Linked DNA regions of Homo sapiens. The protein of the gene in region 3 interacts with the protein of the main gene of each other region in a biochemical or structural test. Each region holds a gene or a part of one and is shown on either strand. Other genes may lie near its edges.

Region 1 (7,630 bases), on a different chromosome or scaffold from region 3:
CAGAGTCTCATTCTGTCACCAAGGCTGGAGTGCAGTGGTGCAATCTCGGCTCATTGCAACCTCCCCCTCCCAGGTTCAAGCGATTATCCTGCCTCAGCCTCCCGAGTAGCTGGGATTACAGGAACAGGCTGCCATGCCCGGCTGATTTTTGTATTTTTAGCAGAGACGGGGTTTCACCATGTTGGCCAGCCTGGCCTTTGTGTCTAGAATTATACAGTTCATGTGAAGATAAGGCCACTACGACAGATTTCAAAGAAGAAATTACTTTAGAAACGCCTTGGTTAAAATCAGTTTGGCCAGCTGCTGACAACTTATCCAACCAATCTTGTCTAACATCAAGTTGTGAAAAACACTTCAGTTTCTTAAACAAAGGGGTAGCTACACATCCAGAAAGTCAATGTTCAGTCAATTAGGCAAAGCCAGTCTCTTCGAACTCATCTCCGTTACTTTAAAACAACTTACCCTCTCCCTCTCCCTCTCCGTCTCCCTCTCCCTCTCCCCACGGTCTCCCTCTCCCTCTCTTTCCACGGTCTCCCTCTGATGCTGAGCCGAAGCTGGACTGTACTGCTGCCTTCTCGGCTCACTGCAACCTCCCTGCCTGATTCTCCTGCCTCAGCCTGCTGAGTGCCTGCGATTGCAGGCACGCGCCGCCACGCCTGACTGGTTTTCGTATTTTTTTGGTGGAGACGGGGTTTCGCTGTGTTGGCCGGGCTGGTCTCCAGCTCCTAACCGCGAGTGATCCGCCAGCCTTGGCCTCCCGAGGTGCCGGGATTGCAGACGGAGTCTGGTTCACTCAGTGCTCAATGGTGCCCAGGCTGGAGTGCAGTGGCGTGATCTCGGCTCGCTACAACCTCCACCTCCCAGCCGCCTGCCTTGGCCTCCCAAAGTGCCGAGATTGCAGCCTCTGCCCGGCTGCCACCCCGTCTGGGAAGTGAGGAGCGTCTCTGCCTGGCCGCCCATCGTCTGGGACGTGAGGAGCCCCACTGCCTGGCTGCCCAGTCTGGAAAGTGAGGAGCGTCTCTGCCCGGCTGCCATCCCATCTAGGAAGTGAGGAGCGCCTCTGCCCGGCCGCCCATCGTCTGAGATGTGGGGAGCGCCTCTGCCCCGCCGCCCCGTCTGGGATGTGAGGAGCGCCTCTACCCGGCCGCGACCCCGTCCGGGAGGTGAGGAGCGTCTCTTCCCGGCCGCCCCGTCTGAGAAGTGAAGAGACCCTCCGCCTGGCAACCGCCCCGTCTGAGAAGTGAGGAGCCCCTCCGCCCGGCAGCCACCCCGTCTGAGAAGTGAGGAGCCCCTCCGCCCGGCAGCCACCCCGTCTGGGAAGTGAGGAGCGTCTCCGCCCGGCAGCCACCCCGTCCGGGAGGGAGGTGGGGGTCAGCCCCCGCCAGGCCAGCCGCCCCGTCTGGGAGGGAGGTGGTGGGGCCAGCCCCCCGCCCAGCCAGCCGCCCCGTCCGGGAGGGAAGTGGGGGGGTCAGCCCCCGCCTGGCCAGCTGCCCCGCCCGGGAGGTGAGGGGCGCCTCTGCCCAGCCGCCCCTACTGGGAAGTGAGGAGCCCCTCTGCCCGGCCACCACCCTGTCTGGGAGGTGTACCCAACAGCTCATTGAGAACGGGCCATGATGACAATGGCGGTTTTGTGGAATAGAAAGGGGGGAAAGGTGGGGAAAAGATTGAGAAATCGGATGGTTGCCGTGTCTGTGTAGAAAGAGGTAGACATGGGAGACTTTTCATTTTGCTCGGTACTAAGAAAAATTCTTATCCTGTTGATCTGTGACCTTACCCCCAACCCTGTGCTCTCTGAAACATGTGCTGTGTCCACTCAGGGTTAAATGGATTAAGGGCAGTGCAAGATGTGCTTTGTTAAACAGATGCTTGAAGGCAGCATGCTCCTTAAGAGTCATCACCACTCCCTAATCTCAAGTACCCAGGGACACAAACACTGCGGAAGGCCGCAGGATCCTCTGCCTAGGAAAACCAGAGACCTTTGTTCACTTGTTTATCTGCTGACCTTCCCTCCACTATTGTCCTATGACCCTGCCAAATCCCCCTCTGCGAGAAACACCCAAGAATGATCAATAAAAAAAATAAATAAATTAATTAAAAAAAAAAAAAAAAACTTACCTCTGCAATTAGGTCACCTTCATTGATTTTGTCCCCCTCTTTTTTTTCCCAACGGGCTATGGTGCCTGCCTGCATTGTGGGGGAAAGAGAAGGCAATGGAACCTGGAAAAGGAAAAGAAGAAACATTAAAATTTTTAAGGACTACCTAACTCTCAGTCTGGCTTAAGATTTCATTCAATTCAATTTCATGCAAAGTGTATACAGTTCCATTGCACATTGGGAACTAGGGATGCCAAGGGAGTTCCTGTCCATGAGAAGTTAGTAATTTCCAGTGACAGGCTTTCTCCTCCACAGTCCTGTGGGTCTGACAAAGCATGAACCTCGGCAGATATTCTGCATACAGCCCCAGTCTTGAAGCTCTCCTTTCAATGAAATAGATCATGAGAGGGACACTAAGGAGCTACAGCAAAGCCAACTATTGGACAAAGGGCCAAAGCAGATACTGGGAATGGGTGGAGGATCAGTGAGGCCTCTCAAGGAGGATCTTGCAGGCATCCAGTCAGCTCTGAAGGACAACGGGGTCCCGAGAAGGGGGGTCTAGGGCTCACCTTCTGATGCGGGGGAAGACTGTAATAGCGGCGGCCGGGCGACCCCAAAAGCTGCAGCAGTAAGCGGTTCCGCGGCGTGGCCCCAGAACTGGGGGTCCAGCCGCACAGTGCCCGGACCCCGCCATACCCTGTAGTCACGCTGTTGCGACGAGCGGGAGCCGGGCCAGATCGCGAGGTCACTCGTGGAGTTCCGGGTACCTCCTGCAAGGCCGTCCACCGAGCCTCGAGTCCCGCCCATGGGGCTACATTCTGAGCCCGTCGCGCACAGACGCGCCACATAGTGCCACCAACCCCCCACACCCCAAAACCAACGCCGTCTCCGGAGTGACCTCTCCAAGAGCAGCGGCGTTGCCGTCAGCCACACCGCACAGCCGCACGTTGTCGTAAAATGGTTCCCGCAGGTTTACTCCACCCGCTCCCCAGGCCAGAAATGCGCGGCACGCACGCTCTTTCTCTACGGAGCGGGGACGAGGGGCACTACGGGGCAGGAGTGTTCCAGAGGGGCCTGTGCGGGCGCAAGTTTGGGAGAAATAACAGACGGAAAGGGGTGGAAAGTGGTAGGGTTCTAGGGGAGGCATCCGAAAGGGTGAGACGGGGCCTAAGAGATGACAAGGGCACGACCGAGGGGGAGGGGCCTAAAAAGGCGCAGAGACGCGGGTTAATTGCGGCCGAGTGGCCTGAGAGTCTGGGCCGAGGGGCGTGGCCAAGCTTTCTGGAAAAGCTGGAAGTGAGCCCGGGAACTGGCTAGGGCAGTGGGAGCCTCAGGCCAAAGGGCGGGGGTCTTGGAGTGCTGGGGTGGTGAAGGAGCCAGGAATCGCCCGCGAGGGAATCGAGGGGTCCGGCGTGGTGACCTCTGCTTCTGCGCATCCGAAGGGGGATGGACTGGGCCGCGCCCCGCGCAGGCTGTACTGGTTGCAAAGATTTCGTTTCAGGTTTGTAGCCCAAGTGGAAAGTGGAGTGAACAGGTGTTCCACCCAGCCAAGTGGTAACGAAAGGCAGCCCAGAGGAAGATACATTCCCGCATTCATGTATACTGTAGCAAGATTAAGCATATTCCCTGTATGAAGATATAGGTTTACAAAACAGGTGTTGCTCCCTAATACCATAGAATTCTTTTAAGTAACCAAAAGCTTCGTTATGTTTCAAATGTTTGAAAAACTTAACTGTAAGCCGTTGAAGGCATGAAGAGTGTCTGCGTGGTCCTTCCATGTAGCCCCAGAGCTTAATATCCAGTAAATAGCGGGGGCTGAATGTATGTCTTTTGAATCAATGAATAAAAAGTCATCTACACATTTTGTTAGGCACGCTTCTCTTGTAAAGTTGTCTTTTAATTAGAAAACATATCGTTTCTGAACTGAAGGTGACATTAGATAAGGAGGAAGCATGTGCTGTGTATCACCACCTCCCCCCTGTAGAGATGGTTAGAGAACACCAAGAACGCAAGAGGAAGTTGGAGGGAAGAAACTTAAAACAAGATTTTAGCCAGGAGCGGTGGTGCATGCCTGTAGTCCCAGCAATGCTTGAGAGGCTGAGGTGGGGGAATCACTTGAGCCCAAGAGTTTGAGACCAGCCTGGGCAACATAATGAGACTCCCATCTGTTAAAAAAAAAAAAAAATGGGGGCTAATCTTGCTAACAATTAATTTGGAAAACTAAAACAGATTGGATGTACTATTTCATGCCTACTTAAATTGGAATGTTTAAGCAGGTACAGCTGTCTATCAGAATAATATGTAAGCAATATAATTGAGAAATATAAAATTTCTAGATTGAATGAAAAGGCATATTTTAAATAATATGAAGAGAGCAATTATATTGTTACAATTATGTACAACTTATGAATTAACAATTGGAAGAAGCAATGAAAGAATAATTGTAATTACTGAAAGGACTTATTACTATTATTTGGGGATGGAGTCTCACTCTGTCGCCCAGGCTGGAGTGCAGTGGCATGATCCCGGCTCACTGCAACCTCCACCTCCCAGGTTCAAGCGATTCTCCTGCCTCAGCCTCCCGAGTGCTGGGATTACAGGCACGTGCCACCATGCCCAGCTAATTTTGTGTTTTTAGTAGATACGGGGTTTCACCATGTTAGTCATGCTGGTCTCAAACTCCTGACTTCAGGTGATCCACCTGCCTCGGCCTCCCAAAGTGCTGAGATTACAGGCGCGAGCCACCATGCCCGCCCAGGACTTATAAATTATTATAAAAATGTTTTTGAGTTGGCTAAAATATCTTGCTGCTTTTGCTGCATTTGAACTTAATAACTGGATCTAAATTAGACTTTGGTATAAAGTATGAGGTGATCTTCCGGATCTGTTGTGCACTTAGGTATGCTTGCTTAAACCCTGTTTTGCATTTTTCAAAGAATAGCGAGTTTGTGTCTTGAATATACTTTTGACTTAAGTGTAGTTAAATTATAGGAATGCATAGCTCAAACAGTCCAGAGATGGCGAGCTTACCCCAGAGGTGGGCTAGGAATGCTTAGGTTTCTCAAATCAGTCCTGAGAGAACAAGCTTGAATTCCACTAAACAGACTGGATAAAGGAAATTATGGAAAAGGAGACTCAAGACTCAAAGGTTTGAAATAGAGATACTTAAGAGAATGGTGATATCACTGATATTGAGAGAAACAGAAATTAGTTGGTAGTGAAAGATTTTGAGTTATGTACATATTTAATTTTAACATAATGGGATAGCCAATTAATAGTTGAAAATACGTAATTGGAAGTCAAATGAAGGCACTCAGGGATAAAGAATTTAATATAGCAAACATTTAAGATGAATTGATAAGAGGCATTTAAGAGGCAGCTTTCAAATGATCTGGGAATTCTGGTCATTTTAAATACACATTTCTGAAAGAGTTCTTAATGCTTGCATACTGACTTTTGTCATAGAGTTTATACTCTTGGGTTCTTATTTGTTTGCATGTTTACATATAATTTCAAAATAAGTGCTAAATAAATTGTCCTTGATAATAGCCTATGTGCTTACATAGAAATACTAATTGTAAAATATCTGTAGCAATAAAGTAATTCTTATCTCCACTCCACATAGTGAGTAAACATGCTACCAGGGAGATCACTTGAGGAAATTTGCTTTCACTAAATGTAAATGGCTTTATTGATTAATCTCATCAGTAAACGCAAGTGAAAATCATTAATGATATTTAGTTTGCAAACCCCATTTTATTCATAGTTTGTGGTTTTTTAAATTAGTTCACAAATCTGGTACATACCGGCAGTTAAAACTGGTTATCACTTTGATAATCAGAAGCCTCTGGTGTAACATAGTCTTCATGAAAACATATTGTAAAACAGGGAGAATACACAGTAATAATCTCTTTGAAAGCAATGGCTGTAAACATCCATGTTTCTAAGAAAATATAACTTTACATATATATGTATTTTAAGCAAGCTATACCTCTTACATAAATTCAGACAGTAGAAGGAGTGTGCAATCATAATGCTTATTTTATGGAAACAGTGAAAATAATTTTAATTATGACCTAAATGCTTTTAAGTAATTAAAGTCCTCTTGAATTGGATGTATAGTATAAAGATATTTTCCCTAATTTGCAACCATCCTGGTCAAAAAGAGCTGAAAAGTTGGTCAGTAAGTAGAAGTGCCATTACCAAGTAAGTTTAAAACAAATTCTTCAAATTTAAAAATGTAAAAATTGTAAAGTATCCCAATCCCCCCAGCTAATTTAGGGAACTGAGCAAGAAGAGAACATTCTTCAGTTTTTAAATGACTTTTTTTTTTTTTTTTTTGGAGATGGGGTCCTGCTCTGTAGCCTAGGCTAGAGTGCAGTGGCATGATCAGCTCACTGCAACCTCAAACTCCTGGGCTCAAGCAATCTTCCCACCTCAACCTCCTGAGTAGCTGGGACTACAGGTGTGTGCCACCATCCCCAGCTACTTTTATAATAAAATTTCTATGTAGAGACGGAGTCTTCCTACGTTGCCCAGGCTGGTCTTGAACTCCTGGGCTCAAGCAGTCTTCCTGCCTCGGCCTCCCAAAGTGCTGGAATTACAGGCATGAGCCACCACACTCAGCCTTAAATGAAGATTTTGTAAGGAATTGAGCATTCAACTAAACTCGTTTTTGTGAGATGGTCATTTTGTTTTAACCTAACATGGTTTAGAGATTATTTTATGAACTCTAAGCATTCTGGTTCCTCAGTTTTCTCAAAGAAAGAGAACTTTAGCAAGTAGCAGGACAAGCTACCCCACACCAATGCCACCAGGCGACAATACTATGAATAAGTCAGGAGGCCTCCTAGAATGCAGCCAAATAGGAAACTGTTCCAAACAGAATCAGTCTTGCATACTTCTGCTCAGAAGGCTCCTCTCGCTTTGGAAACTGGAATGAGGATCACCAACAGGATCCTCATTTTACACAGGAGTTATGAGAGTTACATCCTCTAGCAGAGATGCTTGGTCATTACCTGTGGTACATGAGATTACCGAGCTAAAAGGGAAAAAAAACGATCTTAATGTTCTCCCATGAACTCAACTTAAGCTTTTTATGGAGGCACTGAGGCCATGCAGCTCCTTTTCCAAAAGACACAGATAAAAGCCAAATAAGGTAGAGGACTTTGGAAATTTTCTCTGAAAAGTTAAATTCCACATAATAGTAAGACTGTTTGCTGAGAGAAAACTGACAAGTAAAAACTGGTTTAAGAGACAGACATTCAAGACAAACTGTATTGGAAATACAATAATGAATTTTGGCCTGATAGCCCTCATGCTGTCTTATAGCAAAACACTAAAATTCATGCAACAGAGAAATTGGTGACATGAGGACTTTTTCTCCAGACTTCCTGGGGAAAAACTGTGAGAATATACTTTTTTCTTCTGTTTGCTTTCGAAATGCATTCTTTCTTTTGCTGACTTTCCCAAACTTTCCCAGTCGTTTCTGATGAAAAATTCTTCAATAGGAAAAGACCAGGTAAACTTACATGAA
Region 2 (6,960 bases), on a different chromosome or scaffold from region 3:
TTATTAATGCTTCCTTGTTGAATAAGCCTCCTGAATTACTAACAATACTTAAAAACATTACTCCATGCTATTACAGTAATTAACAAGACAGAATACTGTAGTTTCAGATTTTCTTACTTTGCCTTTCCATGACCAAAAGCCAATTCCAGCTCAAGCAGTGGAGTATTTCAAATTCTACAATTTGAAAAAATAATGAAAAGCTGGATATATTTCTAAATAAATATCAATTTTATTAAAGCCAGGTTGTAATATGTAACTTTCAGAGTAAACAAGTATTCCTGAGACAGGATACATAGCAAAGTAACAGTTTTAACCATTAAATACATCTTAAAACTGGCTACAAAACTTCTTAAATACTTAAAATCTGTATGGCAGAGAAGAATTAAGAACTTCATATTAAACAGTATTTCAGTCTAAATTCAAACAATTTAGAAGCTTTTTAAAAAAGTGAATCTTGAAACAAAAGTTTAATAAATACTTGGTTGCTGTACACTAAGTTTCAGGACCCAATGAAATAAAAAGTCTGAATAGATGGAAATATTTGGAGAAGCAAACTTTATGACTATTTATCTTTAAGTGTTGATATAAGTAATAGTCGCAAACATTTTAATAAACACGATAAAGTTTAAATGCAATAACTTTTATCAAAACTGGGAGTCAAATAAACCAAGAAAATGACTTGGATATATGACAACCTATAAGGTAACACTTAATAAAAACTATTCTTTTTCTGGAAGGGGTTATATTTCAGTTTATCTAGAAGCTTAACTTTAGGTATTCCTCTATTTTGGTCGTATTTCTAGGTCATCATATTTAAAATTTCTTCCTTCTTTGCTTGCTTCCTTGTTATTATCAAAATTGATCTTATTAATTAAAAGATCCTAAATGTTATTAATACACATGAAAATATATTTTCAGTTCCAGTGCCAAAGTAGGTGTCTTTTATGCCAACTTTCTATAACATACAAGTACCAATGCCAAATATATTGTAACTCTAACACTGCTCAATTCAAAAGAAAAGTGACCCTATCATCTTTCTCAATCAAAACCAAAGTATGTTTTTCATGGTTCAAGACCAGGCAATGTAAAGTATTTCTGACTTGCCTCACATCATCTTCATTTTAAAAGCTCATGTAAATTATTTACTATTAATAAAATAGTAAATTCCATTCATTTAGCAAATGTGGTATGCTGTAAGATCTGCTTATAAAAGGCTAACTGTAATTAAAATACTACATAGCAACATTTTCAATTATATGAAATTCAGCTTTGCATTACCAAAGGATTCTAAATGTGCAACACTGCATTGATATACATTGTTAAAGTCTCTATTTTTGTGGAGGAAATATCAACCATTATACCAAAGTTTTCAAGCTTACGTCTGACTGCACAAGAAACCAAACTTATAAAGAGATTTCTTAAAAAGTATATTTAAACAAGAAATTTAGATGCAGTTGCAATACTTAATTTTGACATCAACTCTTCAGAATTTCTTGATTTAGTCTTTTTTTTAAAAAAAATTAACTGTCCAACACACAAAAAGAAATGCAGGCATGCTATTTTTTTCTCCTAATTCCCATCTACAATCTTTGAGTAGCTAAAAGATAACTATATTAAAATAAAGCAAAATAACTTTTAAGTCAAAAAACAAACATCTCTGGAACACTCCCAAGTAATGAAAAACCCGACAGGGTAGCTTAAGTCCCCATGTACACCATAGAGATCTAAAGAAAATCGTGCCTACATTATCAAATATTTATCTGGAAATGGGAAATAACATTGCTACTCGACATGACTTAACTAAGCGATCTACTTTGCTCTCATCTTTTGCAGACATGTGGTGCCCAATGTTTTCCCTTAGTCGACTGCTTTCTCATTAGTAAACAACTTATTAGCTCTTTCTCTGGTGCTCAAATGAGAGGGAAAATGAAAGTCTGAAAAGCATCAGCATCTGAGCTCCCGGATCTGGGCAGGGGTAGCAGAGAAAGGCACCCTGTATTTATCACTCGGTTAAAAAAAAAAAAAGAAAGGAAAAGAAAAGAAAAAGATAACCCTCAAAATAGAGGAAAGAAACTCTGTCACCTGAAGAGGGCTGCTGAAGTGAAGCAAACATTTGGTGAGACTCGTTTTTTAAAAAAACTTGTCTAGGGGCTGGAAGTTATGGGGGCGCTCTTTGTGCGGAGTCTGAGGGGAGGGGGAGGGACAAGAAAACAGCTTGGGAGTCATTCAAAGGAGTTTAAGGAGCGGTGTACGGAGGAAAGGCGGGGCGGGGCCCGGCCGCGCGAAGGGAGGGGGCAACAGGGGCGTTCGCGGGTAGCTCTGACACCGAGGGAGGGGGCGACGGGCCGGCCTCTCCGGGGACCAGGCGAGAGCAGGCTCCCGCTGCAGCAGGGCTGCAGAGATGGGGTCCCCTCTGGTAGGCAGAATCAAACCAAAGCGGTGGCAGGCCAGGGCTTTGGCGGGGGAGAGGGTCCGGCTCCCCAGGGAAGCGGTTCCCCGAGGGAAGCATTTCCCGAGTGACATCCCGGAGTTTCCGCACTTAGCGGGCTAGGGGCGCGGCGGCCGCAGGGCTTTCCTCGGTCCCCGACGCCGCGCGGGGCTCTCTCCCTGTCTCCTCCGCCAGCGCCTCTCACCAGGGCCGCGGCCCTTACCTGCAGTTCCGTGAGCAGAATCTCCCCCCGTTCGGGGTTGGACGCCATTGCGCTCCGGTATGGACTCCGCACCTGGACGCGGCCGCCTCTGGCGAAGGGAGAAGGCGGGACGGGGCTCGGGGTGGGGGTGAGGAGAGGGGAGAGAAAGAAAAAAAAAAAAACAACTAGGGATTCATGGAGGCGCAGCCCCTGCTGGAGGCGCGGCTTATTCCGTCCGGTTCATCGAGAGCGGCGGGGAGCTAGGGCACTCGTAGCGGGCTTCCTCTCGCCGCCCTCACCGGACTGTTCGTCTAGTCGCTCCCTCTGGGCGACGCCAGGAGCCGCCTCAAGCCTCTCCGTGCGGGCGCTGCGGCCGCGGCTGCAGCTCCTCCTGTCGCACCATTTGGCTGTCACCGCGTCGCAAAAGCGGCCTCACTTGGCGGCTGCCAGCACACGTGACGGCGGCAGCCACTGCCCCTCATCGGGCAGGGAAGGTGGGGCGGAGGGGTTCCCTAGGGCGAACGCGGCGAGGGGGCGGGGCGTCTTCCGACCCGACTCCGCGGCGAGGGCAGCCATTGGACTCGGCTGGGGTGAAAATGAGGGGAAAGGACTGGGCTCGAGTCTCTGGGGAGGCGGGAAGAGGAAGAAAACACACGCCTACTTTCCTGCTGCGTTTAACGGCTTCACTGTGAACGCTAGAACTCGGGAGCCTGCTCGCTGTTGTTTTTTCGGGTTTCGTTTTTTTTTTCTTTCTTTTTTTTTTTTCCCAGTTCCACCTTGCCGAAACTTGGGCCTAACTTTAACAGGCCCTTTTCTAACCTCCATAACCCAAAGAGCTTCGGGACTCAGATCTTACAGATTATTCCTCTGCTCTCCCCTTGACCCCCACGTCAACCCAAACTAATAATCTTGCCTTTTGCTCACCCTCAAACCCAGCCCCCAGCGCGCCTTCTCGACCAGTTAAGGTGCACAGCTAGCTAAACGGGTATGGTCTGTACTTTTCATGAAATGTAAGCGGCTGGATCCCTGGCAACTTTTAATGTACGGCCTTTAAGATGTCTTTTTCTTGAGGTTGAACTACTGTTGCTTGTACTGGAGAACTGTACAGAGCTGAGAATTAGCTGGGTTTTTTTGGGTTGTTTTAACTTTATTTAAGGGAGGGGGAGGTGGGACGGGATTACCCTCGGGAAAGGAAAAAAGCCACCTTTCCTTGGCGTGGTAAGCATTAAAGCTAACCTGACTACTTAGTAAAATATAGCTAAGTAAAGTAAATCTAGGTGTTTGTTTTTAATGACACTATGGTATTAAGGAATTTCGAAGTCTCCTACAGGTAGCTTTTGTTTTTGTTTTGTCTGAGCAGTGAATGGATAGGTAAACGCGTAACTTTTGATTTTTTGAAGCTGCGGTACAATACCTTTGTTAAAACTACCTGGAGAGAGTGGTAAGGGTTATTTAGGTACGTTGCTACTTAGAAAGGGCATTCGTTGACATATTTCTTAGGAAGTGTAACATTATGTACTTCTCACACGCTCCATGTAACTCTGTTGGCCTGATGCCAGGACTTAACGTCTATCCTTTTGCCTTCTCAAGTCTCATACATCAATTCAGCAAACATGTATTGAAGATCTGGAGTTCTGTGGCCACAGTTTCTGAACTCTAACTTATCATATGTGTGATAAAGAATTTTTCTGGTGTGTACTTCACAAGTCTTACAACTATTTATGTGTCTAGTATATTGCCTTGGTTGAAGATGATAATTAAATACATGAAAGAACACTTGGAAAGGCCGGGATATGATTACCTTTACTGGTAACTAAAAGCCAGATGGTTTCCTAGGCTTTGGAGTTACAGAAAGGATTAGGAGTTCTTATCCGGCCAGGCGCAGTGGTTCACGCCTTTAATCCCAGCACTTTGGAAGGCCAAGGCTGGCCGATCATCTGAGGTCGGGAGTTCGAGACCAGCCTGGCCAACTTGGTGAAACTGTCTCTACTAAGAATACAAAAACTAGCTGGGCGTGGTGGTGTGCGCCTGTAATCCCAGCTACTCGGGAGGCTGAGGCAGGGGAATTGCTTGAACCCAGGAGGTAGAGGTTGCAGTAAGAGTGAGACACTGCCTCAAAAAAAAAAAAAAAAAGGTACTTATCCTTGGGGTGACTGGAGAATTCTTTGGGGAAGCCAACTTATGTCCGAACAACAATAATGCCATTTTAAGTAATAGATACAGTGTTAGGGGAGCACTGCATGCATTTGTGTGTGTGTGTGTATAATGTTTTATTATGGTAAAATGCATAATCAAATTTATTATAACCATAAGTGTACAATTCAGGGGCATTGAATGCACACAGATTTATTTATTTATTTATTTTTGAGACAGAGTCTCGCTGTGTCACCAGGCTGGAGTGCAGTGGTGCCATCTCAGCTCACTGCAACCTCCGCCTCCCAGGTTCAAGTGATTCTCCTGCCCCAGCCTCCTGAGTAGCTGGGACCACAGGCGCATGCCAACACTCCTGGCTAACTTTTGTATTTTTAGTAGAGACGGGTTTCACCATGTTGGCCAGGTTGGTATCGATCTTTTGACCTCGTGACCCTCCTGCCTCGGCCTCCCAGAGTGCTGGGATTACAGGTGTGAGCCACCGTGCCTGGCGTACAAATTTATTTTTGTCAAGGCTTACTGCAGAATGGATTTGAGATGGCTGACATGCACATAGAAGGTGATTAATAATGGTGGAACTAAGAGTTAACTGTGCAAGGGCTTAGAAATACAGTCAATGAGCAGTCTTTGTAAAAATTAATTTAGATATAAATGTTCACATTTCAGCATCATGTAATTTTAGAACTAGAAGTGACTTGAAATATCTAGCTTAACTCCTATTGTAGGTAGGAAAAAAAATTAATAGTTTCCTTAGCTAATTAGAAGCAAGACAGCAGTATTACTTAGTGGCAGAGATGGGGACTATTACCTAAGTCTCCTAATTGCCATCCATGCTTGTTTTAACCTTCACCATGCCACTATAATAACTTTAAATTGATATTAAACTGAAAGCATTAAATTTTTACCGTAGAAAAAGACTTTAAATGTTACACACTTCTAATGTTAAAAGTGTTAATAATTAAAAAAAATTTTTTTGAGACAGTCTCGCTCTTTTGCCCAGGCTTGACTGCAGTGGCATGATCATAGCTCACTGCAACCTCAAATTCCTGGGCACAAGGGATCCTCCTGACTCATCCTTCAAAACAGCTGGGACTATAGGTGCACACCACTGTTGATAAGGAATATTAATTTTACATTTCACATGTAAATTTAAGCAACAAATATACAAAGTTTTTAAAGTTAAGGAATTATTTCTGAGATTAGCTGTGCTAGGGAAAGTAGTACAAAAGGGAGGCCAACAATATTAAAACTACTTGATAATCTAAAATATGTGATGATTTAAACAGCAAATTAGTTTCATTTAAGCTAAAATTTACTACCCAGGTCACATTCTCTGTTCAGGGGGAAAAAAACGTAATAGGACATGGATCATACTTATCAGACTGAAGCACACTTGAAAAAGTTTTAATGGAAACATATCAGGTTGATTCAGATGGGTTGTATTGGGCCCCTATTTACAAATGTGTTTAGAGAATCTTAAATATAGTTCAGAAGTAATTTACATTAACAATAAAAAAAAAAGAAGAGTTTTTTTAGTGTCCATTTAAGAGGGCAAAGTCCTTAAAAATATCTGGATTGTATCACTAGTTATGCTGGTACCTTTTTAAATTTTTCATAAATATTTTAAAGGTCTTTAAGAAGTAGAAATGACCAAAAATCTAGAAATAAATAGAAAGTGTTATCTTTTTTTCTTAAAGATGGGATGTTACAGGAAAAATTCTAGAAAAGCTAACAACTTTTTTTTTTTTTCATTTTCTGTGCTTTTGAAACAGATATTCAGATAATATGGGCCCTCTTTTTCCTTAAATTTCAAGTGAAATGAGACAGGAACCATATGTCCAGGGAAAGGGCCAGAAATCTTTATTTTGTGAGTCACATTTTTATTGCCTTCCGTTGTTTATTTCCCTTTTGCTTGTCCTTAATATTTGTAAACTGTTCAATTCAAACGTGTCCCTACAGTATGATGGAGAATCAATACAAGAGTTTTGTTTTGTTTTGTTTTCCTTTCGTTGTTGTTGTTTTCCATGTTAGAAGAAAAAGCCCACCCCTACTTCCAAAAGATTAGAATGAAGTAGCAGTGGTAATCAAAGTAAGAGTGCCTAAGGAAAGGCAAAACTCCAGAGGTCAGAGTAAGAATTACTTGGTCACCACCCTCTTCTTCCTTAAGAAACCCCCTTGT
Region 3 (7,026 bases):
ACTCGCTTTACCCTGTCTACCTAAATTCTTTCTGCCTTCTATAACAATTGTATGCTCAGTAAATACATAAGGAATAATGAACTTAATAACATTTTTTTCCATTCTCAAAATGATACTTAAATGACTCAGTACAACAAAGAAACTGAGTAGTAACCAGTGCAAAACTAGCAAAAGGATGAAATACACAAGAAAATGAGAGAATTTAAGAGGAGTAGCAAAACAGCACTGCTAAAGTTACGGGTTTATTTTAAAGTTTAAAATAGAAGTAAACAAGCAAACATACTGATAATGGTTAGGCTTTCTGTCCCCACCGCACAAATCTCATCTTGAATTATAATCTCAACATGTTAAGGGAGAGACCAGATGAAAGTAATTGGATCATGGGGTTGGTTTCTCCCATGCTGTTCTCGTGATAGTTCCCATGAGATCTGATGGTTTTATAAGTATTTGGTAGTTCCTCCTGCATTCATTCTTCCTGCTGCCCTGTGAAGAGGTGCCTTCCACCATGATTGTGAGTTTCTGGAGGCTTCTGCAGCCTTGCGGAACTGTGAGTCAATCCTTTTTATTATAAATTACCCCGTCTCAGGCAGTTCTTTATAGCAGTGTGGGGATGGACTAATACTCGCTGGGTTAGCTGGGGTAGGTAAAGCCACAGCTGTGGCAGCAACCAGCTAGTGGGTGTCCCTTGATGGAGGCTTTGCAGGCTGCAGCAGAAGGGACCCTTCAGATAAACCTCCAGTCAGGAAAGGAAAAGGCCCAAATAAACAGTATTTAGATTTTTTTTTAAAGGACATAACTACCAATAGAGATTTAAAATAATCATAAGAATACCATTAACTTTATGATAAAAATTTTGTAAGTGGAGAAGAAATGGATATATTTCTAGGAAAACAGTAGAAGATCCATCTAAGATTTTGACAATTTAAATCAACCACTAAGGAAGTGGAATCAGTAATCACAAGTCCACCTCGCCAAAAGACAATTTTTGAAAGATGAATGTTACCAAAACATCAAGAAACTGATAATTCCTGTCTTATAGAAACTTTGAAATGAGAGAAAGCTACCCAACCCATTTCAGAAAGTTAGTAAAATCTCAAAGCTACACTTGAGCAAAGACTGTGAAATATTAATAGACCAATCTTGTTTATGAACATAGATGGAAAAATTGCTGATGAAATATTGGCACATTGAATGTAGCAGTGCATAAAATATTGTATCATGAGCAAAAGGAGAATCTTTCCCAGGAACAGGAGGATGTTTTAATAAAAATATGTAATTTACCTCTCTACAGATTAAAGGAGAAAAACTATATGATCACATCAACAGAAACAGGAAATTCAGTTTCTTTGGGGGATAGTTGTAATTAAAAGTGCTTAACTCACTTATATAAGCCATTAGTGGATGTTACAATAAACCTCGTATAGTGTCAGATGTAAGACAGACATACTGGAATTGTCTATGAGGTTGGATCCATGGGCCTGCCATGGAAAATTTGTTGAGTAATACGTCCAAGGCGTCACCATTTGCCAGGCGTTGCAAGTATCACCATTTGCAAGGTGTTAACAAAAAGTTACCTGCCTATGGATTCTCCTTTCTAACTCTGACCTAATATTTTGGAGCATAGAGGAAAGAAACATCTTATGTTTCTGTGTTTGGGTAAACATTAGACTTATAAAAGGGCCTAGGGTTTTTTTGTTTGGTAAACCATTGCCTTTCCTGCTTTGGTGTGGCAAATCTTCCTTTGGAGAAAAAGGTCCCTTTAATCTTAAAACCAACTCTCAGTGACCAACAAAAGCAACAAATAGGAACAACCACCCATTAAGAACCATCAGGTGATGCCTCATTTGCTGTGGTGCACAGCTGAACTTGATTGTTACTCTTGGATCAGGGTTGGCTTGATAAGGACTCACTTAACCAATGGAAAGTAAGGTTAAATCTTTGTAAGCAATGCTCCTGATGCGAATCACCTGGAGATCTTGAGCAAATGCAGACTGGTTCAGCAGATCTGGAGTGGGGCCTGAGATTCTGCATTTCTAACAAGTTTCCTGGTGATATTAATGCTGCTGGTCTGTGAGCCATACTTTGAGTAGCAAAGGACTAAAGGTTGTGAGATAAACTGCTTTTAGCAGCCCAAAGGGCCAGCTGGAAAGACGAGACCAGTTACAGAGCAAATGGCAAGACAGATCTGGTAATCTGATTCTTAGAGTACTTAAAAAAGATAAGAAGGATCTATTCCTGATATACAGGGTACTTGGTGGATGTGTCCATGACCTCGAGATCGAAAACCCATTAGTTAATCTTTGTGACATCTGAATTTTAAGGATCTTACCCAGTGAACATATAACTAGTGGAAATCCTGATAATTGGCTAATGCAAGGAAGTGATACCCATGTGTAATGCTTATCTTTGTATCCATTTCATGGGGAAGGTCATGGAAGACGACAGCAAACTTGAGTGGTTAATGAGAGCTTCACTAATGTTGTCTGCTGCAGGCAATAAGTGAAGTCTCTGGCAGTGGGAAGCATGGACCCAAGACCGAAAGCTCTGGCACTTTATAGCAGTGGTGGGGGGTAGATAGGACTTAGTGTGGCCCCTTAAAGAGCAAGGTCCAAGTGATTTTCTCTGGTGAATGTCGATGTGGATCTAGTCTCCAGGGTTAGATCCAGGCAGGTAACATCAAAGTCAGTTGATAAGACCTCTTATGCCTGTGAATGGAAGGCCCTGATAAAACTTCATTATTAATGTTCTGCATTAATTTAGCGGATGACTATAGTCATTTCACATAATCTAATACATGAATGTCCTGTATGGGTGACTGCTGAGGGTTTAACAAAGGAGAGTCCATTTATATTTGGCTGGTAAGATCGATGCTTCTGTCACTACTGATGGGCAAGGATATTAACATCAATATCTAAAAAAATTCTGAGATTTGGATTGTGATGTGTTAAATTTCTAGACCAATTTGAGGAGAATTTAACAATAGCTTTTCAATTTATGAACATGGCGTATATCTTTTTTGGCGGGGGGTGAGGACAGAGTCTTGCTCTGAGATTACCCAGGCTGGAGTTTAGTAGCATGATCTTGGCTCACTGCAACCTCTGCCTCCTGAGTTGAAGCAATTCTCCTGCCTCAGCCTCCCCAGTAGCTGGGATTACAGGCGAGCGCCATCATGCCTGACTAATTTTCGTATTTTTAGCAGAGACAGGGTGTCGCCACCTCAAGGGATCCACCTGCCTTGGCCTCCCAAAGTGCTGGGATTTATAAGCGTGAGTCACCGTACCTGGCCAGACATAGCATATATCTTCCTTTACATAGATTGCCTTTGATTTCTTTCATTGTTACTTTGTAGTTTTCAGCTTACAGATTCCGCGCATATTTTGTTAGACTTAAATCTAAGTATTTGCTTTTTTTTTAACTTACAAATTTTTTTAAAAAAACGTTTTTCCTCTCCAATGTTCATTGCTAATACATTTCACGTTTGAATCTCCAGTTCAGAAAAATCATGGCCTCTGGAGTTTTACTGAGGACTAGAGATAGCTAAGTAACATAGTTCCACCTTATTCACTTGGTCTTTGATGTGGTGTCCATAATTGAGTAAATGGCAGTATGTCCAATGGCAACACCATGAACTTGACTTTGCCCTCTTGTCTAGCCCTCTCCATTTAGACTTGGAAGGGTCAGCAGTAAAATTTCACTGGCCCAGTCCAGGGCTGCTTGAGTGTTACTGTTTTGTGCCACAATATGATGTGGCCAGACTACTTTTCTAGTTTCGAGATTATTTTGGAGCTTTATATTGGGTATGTTCTTATCCAACTATCATTAGGGGCATTGATCTCTGATGCCCTTTTCTTTCTTATCTTCCAAATGGCAGGCAGTAAATGGCTTATTAAGCAAGTATAAGATTCAAGATCTCAGCCCCAAAGATACATTTGTAGATGCCAGGCTTAACATTCCTGAGGCTCTCAGAGAAAACTTTTCCCTCTATAGACTCCCCATTTTAAGAAGGAGGCACAGGGCTTGGTTGGCCCATTTAGTTAGTGACACACCTATATTACTCTCCTTGGCATCTTACCCCAGCCCATCCATTGGGTTGTGTCAGTCTTTTATTTCTAAGTGAGGATCCAGTCAACAGGAGGCACAAGAGATAGAACCAAATACCATAATGCCTCCTTCTATTCCACTATGAACAGTCAAGGACACTGGAGGCCTCTGGGTGGGACACATAGGCGTTCAAGAGCCTCTGAGCTTAAAGATATGTGAGTGGAGCTAACTAGACTGTCCAGGTTTGGTCTACACTGTAATTTTTTTTTTTTTTTTTTTTTTTTGGAAGCAGAGTCTTGCTCTTTTGCCCAGGCCAGAGTGTAGTGGTGTGATCTCAGCTCAGTGCAGCGTCTGCTTCCTGGGTTCAAGTGATTCTCCTGCCTCAGCCTCCAAGTAGCTGGGACTACAGGTGCCTGCCACCATGCCCAGCTAATTTTTGTATTTTTAGTAGAGACGGGGTTTCACCGTGTTGGCCAGGCTGGTCTCGAACTCCTGAGCTCAAGTGATCCTCCTGCCTTGGCCTCCCAAAGTGTTGGGATAGCAGGCATGAACCACCGTGCTCAGCCTCTCTGTAAATCTTGAGTCGGCACTGAGCTCATGAAAGCTGTGCTGAGTGGGTTTCTTTAGATTTTCATTTTCATGTTTGCCCCATTTATGCTAATATTAATTATTGGAAAATAATTCACCTACTTTGCTTCTCTCTGACCAACATAGGGGCAGGATCTGTGGAAAGACATTTACCACCTGTTTGAAAAGGTCAGCGTGCTGATATTCACTAACTACTACCCCCACAACTCCCCCTCCCCCAAACCTGATAGATGCTATAATTTCTGCAGTCCAATCACTATTCTTCCCAAACTCCATGAGCCAGATTTTATACATACTTTGCGTGACCATAAAACTCTGTACTATTATAGACATAAAACCATTTAATTTCATAGATACCTTCAGTGGTGGCATCACTGGGTCCTCTCTTGGATAGCATAGTCCTATGACCAAATGGGTCAGTCGTTGATCAGGCTTCATGAGAATATGATCGCTGGGAGAAATATACAGCTAATTTAACAACAAATGACTGTCCTAATTCTGGAGACCTGGGAAGTATTGATGAGAGTATAGTGATCATAAGCAGACATTGGGTGCTTTAGCAAAGCCAATTTGCCTGCATCCTCTGGAAGGTAAAGAAGATCTCCTCTCTCTTAGAACTTAATCAAACTCTTGGCATCCACAGAAGGCTAGGAGGATGTAATGAATACTTACCATTTTTGTGGAAGCCCACAACCTTTTGAATGGCCTTTCTATACTTTAGTGAACCTCCATGTTATGAACCTTACTTCCTCAAGTCTCTTTTGCTGCTAGGAGGCAGACAGTAACTTCGGTAATTAGAAACATCTGCACTCAGCAACATGAAGCACAAGTTCTGTGCAGTTGTCCATATGCTGTCATGAGTTTTGCCATATGTATCATCTGGCTTTCAGAGGACCTTTCATGGTTGTCAGGTTAAGTTCCTGATACAGAAGTGGCATCAGTGCTGGTGTTAATGGCTGCAGTAAAGTCAAATTCCTAGATTTTAGTGCTCTGTGGTAGCAGAGAGAATGGTGGTAGTTTATTTTTTCTTTCCTTTTTTTTTTAAAAAAAAAAAAAAACCTTTTTCATGTTGAAGTTCACATGACCTACAACTAACCATTTTAAAGTGTAATTCAGTGTCATTCAGTACATCCACAATGTGCAATCACCACCTCTGTCTAGTTCCAAAACATTTTTATCACCCTAAAAGGAAACCTTGCACCCATTAAACAGTGGTAGTTTCTCTATCATGCCACTTTTGTAGCATGCTTTGGGGTCTTATTCCTGGGATCTTTCTCTACAGTGGTATGATTATATAAGGGTGGAAATATAAAAGAGTAAGCCTTTAGAAACAGTTTGTGTCTAAATTAGCTCTCAGGCATATTGTCTTCAAAGGAATGTTTTAAACCAGCCAAAGACTAACATCAACATGCTTACATTTTGAGTCCAAAATTAAAATCCAAAATAGCCAAGCATGGTGGCTCACGCCTATAATCCCAACTACTCCAGAGGCTGAGGTGTGATAGAATTTCTTGAACCTAGGCGTTCCAGGCTGCAGTGAGCTATGATTGTGCTGCTGCACTCCAGCCTGGGTGACAGAGCGAGGTTGCTTCTAAAACAAAAATTTGAAATAGTAAGTGCTTTGATTTTTTTTAATATAGAATCAAACAATTGTGAAAATATAATTGGCTAAGTTTCATATACAGTTCTTTCTAAAACTCCTTCTGTTCTCTAAGATGTAGTTTGAACCAGCCAAGGATGATGGCTTCAACATGTCTCCAGTTGTTTTGCCACTCCAGGGCCTGACTCAAACCAAAATAAGACTTGCTGTTACCCTGAGACAAGCCAACTGTCATTGCTTTAGCAACCACTACGGCTACAGGTTGTTGCATCATGCCAAGCTCTGTGTTCTTTCTAACTAGTAGAATGGAGTGGGATGGTATCGTGATGGTGAACCCAAAACAATGGTACTAGGAAGGAGGTTGGCCAAACTCAGAGTGGAGGCTGACCCTGTATCTGGTTGTAGCAGAGTCGGTCCTAGGGGAACAGGCTCAGCAGCAGCAAGGATGCAAGGACCAGAAGGCAGCAGGGGAAGGAAAAGGAGCAGGGGATAGGGGAACTTTAGGAGCAGAGTAGTGTTGATAACTGGCATCTGGAACCTACAGTTTCCAGTTCAGAGCAGTACACCATACTCAGTGTATACTTACACTCCAAGACATTTCCTGGGCAGTGATCTAGAAATGATATTTTTAAAAGGAGCTGTGTTTCAGTGTTAGACTGTAGTTATCCAAGCAGTATCAGATAGTGTGCAGTTTTTGTAGTAAAAGGTAAAAATCTGAATAATAAAGTTTATTAATAACAGTTTTAGTTAATACTTGACTGACATTGAGACCCTTGATGCAAAAAGGTAAGTAGAAG

Evidence for each region. The genes of interacting proteins can lie anywhere in the genome.
Region 1: the proteins of PDK1 (region 3) and DLAT form a complex in vitro, tested with the Homo sapiens proteins (one study listed by BioGRID).
Region 2: of the proteins of PDK1 (region 3) and PKN2, one has a biochemical effect on the other in vitro, tested with the Homo sapiens proteins (one study listed by IntAct).

The regions. Positions count from the first base shown.
Region 1 is NC_000011.10:112,020,785-112,028,414, reverse strand, and holds the start of DLAT (dihydrolipoyllysine-residue acetyltransferase component of pyruvate dehydrogenase complex, mitochondrial isoform 2 precursor), read right to left. Parts: upstream 3,008-7,630; 5' UTR 2,943-3,007; coding exon 2,664-2,942; intron 2,218-2,663; coding exon 2,116-2,217; intron 1-2,115.
Region 2 is NC_000001.11:88,680,320-88,687,279, reverse strand, and holds the start of PKN2 (serine/threonine-protein kinase N2), read right to left. Parts: upstream 3,008-6,960; 5' UTR 2,700-3,007; coding exon 2,652-2,699; intron 2,117-2,651; exon of another isoform or gene 2,076-2,116; intron 1-2,075. UniProt on the Homo sapiens protein: PKC-related serine/threonine-protein kinase and Rho/Rac effector protein that participates in specific signal transduction responses in the cell.
Region 3 is NC_000002.12:172,601,068-172,608,093, forward strand, and holds part of PDK1 ([Pyruvate dehydrogenase (acetyl-transferring)] kinase isozyme 1, mitochondrial isoform 2 precursor), read left to right. Parts: 3' UTR 1-7,026. UniProt on the Homo sapiens protein: Kinase that plays a key role in regulation of glucose and fatty acid metabolism and homeostasis via phosphorylation of the pyruvate dehydrogenase subunits PDHA1 and PDHA2.